2 separate regions of the Homo sapiens genome follow, and region 1 is linked to region 2. Evidence: fine-mapped expression QTL. A gene starts in region 2. The other region holds a variant in brackets. All regions are shown on one strand. Distances are from middle to middle.

Evidence for each region. PIP is the estimated chance that this variant, and not a neighbour inherited with it, causes the effect.
Region 1: its variant is fine-mapped to the expression of IFIT3 in whole blood (INTERVAL, PIP 0.97).

The regions. Positions count from the first base shown.
Region 1 is chr10:89,373,075-89,375,995 of GRCh38, reverse strand. It overlaps a transcript of LIPA not described here. Among named protein-coding and RNA genes, the nearest start is that of IFIT1B, 3.5 kb to the left of the region's middle. The variant T/AGT (reference allele first, on the strand shown) is at 1,653.
Region 2 is chr10:89,326,562-89,329,482 of GRCh38, reverse strand. IFIT3 (interferon induced protein with tetratricopeptide repeats 3) reads right to left here and starts at 1,486. Exons shown (of 2, transcript NM_001549.6): 1 at 1,405-1,486. The coding sequence starts at 1,409. It also overlaps a transcript of LIPA not described here. RefSeq lists a silencer at 1,109-1,158 and an enhancer at 1,479-1,718.

The sequences.
Region 1 (2,921 bases), 47 kb before region 2:
ATCCTGGTTTCGAACTCCTGACCTCAGGTGATGCACCTGTGTTGGCCTCCTAAAGTGTGGGATTACAGGTGTGAGCCACTGCACCTGGCCCGTCTTGACATCTTACAAGCACAGGATATCATTTAGATCCATGTATTCTTCCATAAACCCACCAAATCTCAACATTACTTAAGTAATGAGAATCCCCATTTTATTCCTTGAGTATACTCTAATAATAAAAGTAGGCAGAAAAATTCTCTAAGCATAATGACAGCACAGAAATGGAGGTTAGAACCATTCAGGGGAATGAGGGAAAGGAAACTAGGCCCACGTAGCCCTGCTGTGGAAGACCAAGTTTGCTGAAAGGGAAGAATGATTGTTAGTCAAACATTGTTCCATCTGGGGTTGAGCAAACCAAGGCCATTAGAAAAAACCTTCTACACCTGTCAGGTGACAGAATCACCTGATGGAGGGGGTTCTGCACAGATATTTGCCATCTTGTTTATTTTGGGGTTGTGTACTCTGAGTATAAGACAATAGCACCCCATCATAGAACAACCATTATTCTATATTTGGGGCCAATGGGATGTTTTCTTCTGAGGTTTCCTTTCTTGCTCTGCAGCTTGGGCATAATGAGAACTATTAAAACCCTTTACCTTTACTTGTCTTTGTGCGCACAAGATGATGTTGCTCAGTAGTGAAGGCCACCTGGAATCAGACTACCTGGGGTCATTAATGGACTTTGCTGCTTACTGGACATGTGATCTTGGGATAGTTGGTTCACATTTCTAAGCCACATTTACTTACCCATGGAATCGGAATAGCACTAGGACTTTCGTCATGGGGTTATGTTGAGATGAAGTGGGATATTGCATGGAAAGCATGTCTCATTTAACAGCATTCAGTAATTGTGAGTGTTGCTTTCACAGTGTGGGACAAGTCCCCTTATCTGTGCAGTCTGTGCTGACCATTAGCTGGAGCCCTTCCAGACTACAATTTTTCCCAGTGGGCACTGAGAGAGAGGTGTTTCATGTCATATCTGACTGTGCAGCTGCTGAGATAGGGGTGTCCTGTTCTGAGCTTCAGGCCAGGGCAATCTACATATTCCCATCTCAGGCTCAGGTCAGGGAGCCCTGGCCATATCTACACATAGAGCCCAGCAGTACCTCTTGGGCAGCAGGCATTCAACCTCTCCCTAGTGAGGATGGACCTGTGTAGGGGGAGAAGAGATTTTGGAATGGGACTCATTTCCTCTCAGCTCTCTCTCTCCAGTTCTGTATCAGATGGGAAGCTTCTAGGAGGCCAATTGTGTTTTCAGATACAAATATCTTCTGTAAGGCACTAGCCCTGAATCAACTCTAAAAGGGATAGAAACATAAGCAAATACTGAAATGAACATTAGGAGAGCTGCTTACACTGAGAGTAGTATGACTTTGGAATTTTCATGCATAAAATTATTGCTAGTAACAGCGTGTCAGAGAAACAGAGTGAGTGTTTGTCATGTGGTCACTGAATTTGGCAGCAGTCCTGGTTCTGTGAGGCTCTGGCTCAACTGATTAGGTATTCAGGATCTGGCCCAGTGTGTCCTTGGATAAATACAGCCATGAACCACACAGGACAGAGCAACAATAAGGAAACAGCCAACACATTGTGTAAGAGAGAGAGAGAGAGAG[T/AGT]GTGTGTGTGTCTGTGTCTACAAATAGGAAAAAAACAATGGAAACTAGAGAGGGAAACTCATTTCTAATGGGCAGGATGCCTACTTGTAGAAATGAAACTTAAGCATTGGAGAAATAAAACTTAACCACTATCAACATTCCAGAACCAGCTCTGTGTTCGACGAACTAGCAGAGTGAACTTGATTTCACTTAAACACTGAGTTTCCTCATCAGGTATAGAAAAAGGTTGGCCTTGAACAGTGGTTTACAACCTTGGGCTGCAAGGTTGTAAAATTCCTTGGAAGTCTTTTAAAAATGCAGATGCCTGAGCCAATCTCCAGCCCAATCAATCAGAATCTCTGGAAGTGAAGCCCAGGCATGAGTATTATCAGTAAGTTTTCTGAAAAAAGTAATCCCAAAGTGATTTTTTTGTGCATGGTTTAAAACCACTAGACTAGATTTTTGCTACTCAGGATATGGTCTGTTACAGTGGCATCCTCAACTACTAAAAGCCCAGAAATGCAGAATATCAGGCCCCTCTACAGATCTCCTGAATGAGAACTTGCCTTTTAACATGTCCAGATGATTTGTTGGTACATTAAAGTTTCACAGATACTTTTCCAAATGATCCCTGGATCCCTTTCAGGTCCAAATGCTTTGGATCAGAGACTAATTCCTAATAAATACCTATTTTCTATGAGGCTCTGAGTCTAGAACTTTATTTTTCTATGCTTTGGTTTCCCCTTGTGCACCTTAATAATCCATGCAATACCAGAAAGGATGTAGGTCAAAGTGCACTGACCTCTACAGAGAGTGTCTGATGTTTGCTTTTGAGACTACTCATGTTTGCAAACTTGCACCAATCATGTCCACAGAGAAAATACTCAGCTACTAGGAACTTCTCTGCTCTGAAAGTCCTGGTAATCTTCATACCACCTCAGGGGTCTTGATGGCTATCTTTGGGCTACTCTGATTTACTTTTCTGGCTGACTCCCACGTGTTCCAGTTTTTTTTTTTTTTTTTTTTTTTTGAGAGGGAGTCTCGCTCTGTCGCCCAGGCTGGAGTGCAGTGGTGCAATCTTGGCTCACTGTAAGCTCTGCCTCCCGGGTTCACGCCATTCTCCTGCCTCAGCCTCCCGAGTAGCTGGGATTACAGGCACCCACCACCACGCCCGGCAAATGTTTTTTGTATTTTTAGTAGAGACGGGGTTTCACTGTGTTAGCCAGGATGGTCTCGATCTCCTGACCTCATGATCCGCCCGCCTCTGCCTCCCAAAGTGCTGGGATTACA
Region 2 (2,921 bases):
TAGTTCAGAGAGCCCCCCTCAGACCTCCTCAGGTCAGTGGCTATAGACACACCTAAAGACAGGACCCTGTAAAACCTTTCCTGCAAGCTGGCTACTAAGACGCCTTGCTCTCTGGTCAATCCCACTCACACAGACACAATTAACATCACTCTTGACCAGGAACTTATTCTATATAAAAGGGTATTCTATATACTGAGGTATTTGGCAGTGAATTCCTCTTACCCATCTCATCCCCAAACATGACATTGCAGAGCATCTTCAAGTCCTTGGGGCAGAGTAAGGTAGGGAATCCAGTTTTCCTTTTCTGCCCCCCTGAATGGTCGATGGGGTCTTCCCTCCCTGGCAATCACCTCCTCACTCCTTTCCTAGAGATGCTTGGTGGGAAAGGCATCCTTTTCTCTTAGTTCTCCCTAACATGCTATCCCCTGAAGAACTCCAGGAGGTCAATATATAAATTTAAAAATCAAGTTTACTGAGATTATGCTTTATATACAATAAGATGCACCCATTTTCAGTGTATAGTCTGATGAGTTTTGGTAAATGTTTATGCATATGTAGCCACCATCACTACCTCCCTATAGACTATTCCTATGATTCTAAAAAGATTCTTTTGGGAGCCTTCCTACTCAATCCCCACCATCTCCAGGCAACCACTGATCTGCTTCCCACCATTAGAGATTAGACTAGTTTTAGATAATAGATTAGGTCATTACACTTTTGAGGAGAAATTCTTTTTTTGCTGCTGACCAGCATTCACTACATCAATAAAAATAAATGCTAAGCTTTGGGTTTGTTTTTATATAAGAAATGACAAAAATGCCCATTTGTAAGAATTGTTTCTTCCACTTCCCACCTTAAAGTAATGCAACGTTTCAGGGCAAAATTGCCTTCTTCATGAGTGGGTTTGCAGTACTGATTGTATCTTTCACAATATCTGTTGAAAATAAATTCCTCCTTTTAAAATTACAAGAAAAAAAGCCTGTGACTTAATCTTTTCAAACAAAATGACAATAACAGAAAAACCCAAAAGAGTAATTCCCTTAGGTCTACCCTTGAATCAGCCAAGTTTGTGGCTGAGTGAAATACACCGCTCCTGCCAAGCCTTCCTCTCATTGCAGGAAATAGCTGCACACAGGGAGGAAACATGAGCTGATGCATTCCCCACCCTGCCTCCCCCCATGTAGTTCCGTAGGGAACCATTCCAGAAACTTAAGAAGCCTGTGTGTACACCAAAAAAAGCCACAGGGAAAAACCCCTCAAACATCTTACAAATGCTCAGACTGATAAAGACATATTGAATCTATAAACATCAGGACAATTCAGGAATGTGCCTGCACAGTAAGAAACTCAACTTACAATTTGCACTCAAAAACAAGCATGATTATGCATTCTTATTTCACTGACCTCATGACTGCCCTCTGTGTCTCTGCTGTTCCGAAAAGCTGGTGACCAGGCTGATTTGTTCTTCAGAAGTCTTCCTGTCTGCCTCAAGTAAATACTGAAGGAACTATATAAAGGGGTGGGAGAGTAGGGCACGCATCAGCTGATGTTTTCTCCGTTTTTGAGTAATTGCTTTTAGGGGAAGGAAGAGGAAACTGGAAAGTGAAACTAATTTAAAATCGTTGGGAGGAGGAAAATGAAACCTAACGGCTTGAGACCTGCAATGGCTGAGCCAGAGTACGTTATTCAAAACTGTGACTAAAATTTGTTTGAGAGAATGTGGAAGCATTCCTAATGTAAACCAAAAAATTAAATTCTAAGGCCATACTCACCAACCATGTGACTGGACCCCTGCTTTTGGCCAAGGGCATTCCAAAGTTAACCTGAAAACTGATGTGAAGGGGAAGCTGGATATGCCTCATTACATCCTTTTTCCTTTTGGAATTACTAATAGAACACACTCTTTTTTTGTTTTTGTTTTTGTTTTTTTTTGAGACAGAGTCTTACTCTGTTGCCCAGGCTGGAATGCAGTGGCATGATTGCGTCTCACTGCAACCTCTGCCTCCTGGGTTCAAGTGATTCTCTTGCCTCAGCCTCCCGAGTAGCTGGGATTACAGGCACCCACCACCATGCCCGGCTAATATTTGTATTTTTAGTAGAGACGAGGTTTCGCCATGTTGGTCAGGCTGGTCTTGAACTCCTGATAGCAGGTGATCCAACCACCTTGGCCTCCCAAAGTGCTGGGATTACAGGCATGAGCCACTGCACCCAGCCAGAACATGCTCTTTTTAAGTGTATTAAGAAACATTTACAACCTATTCTCTCTGAAGCCTGCTACTTGGAGGCTTCATCTGCATAATAAAACCTTGGTCTCCACGACCCAGACATTCCTTTCTAATGATTGTCTATTGAATTTCTATTGGATGTCTCCAAACATTCCTTTCTATTGATAATAACTCTTTCAACAAATTGTCAATCAGAAAATCTTTGAATCTGCCTATGACTTGGAAGCTGCCCCGCTTCCCTGTTTCCAATTGTCCCACCTTTCTGGACCTAGCCAATGTACACCTTACATGTATTGATTGATGCCTTATGTCTCCCTAAAATGTATAAAACCAAGTTGTGGCCTGGCACATGTTCTCAGGATCTCCTGAGGGCTGTGTCACAGGCCATAGGTCATTCATATTTGGCTTAGAATAAATCTCTTCAAATGTTTTACAGAGTTTGACTTTTTTTGTCAACATTAGGTATCTGACCATCAGTCTAGGGTGGGGCCCAGGAAACAGCATTTTTTAAGCCAATTCTTATTATTTTTAAAAATTTTTTGTGGACACATAGTAGATATATATATTTATGGGGTACATGAGATATTTGATGCGAGCATACAATGAGTAATAATCACATCAGGGTAAATGACTTCAAGCATTTATTCTTTGTATTACAAACAATCCAATTATACTCTTTTAGTTATTTTGAAATGT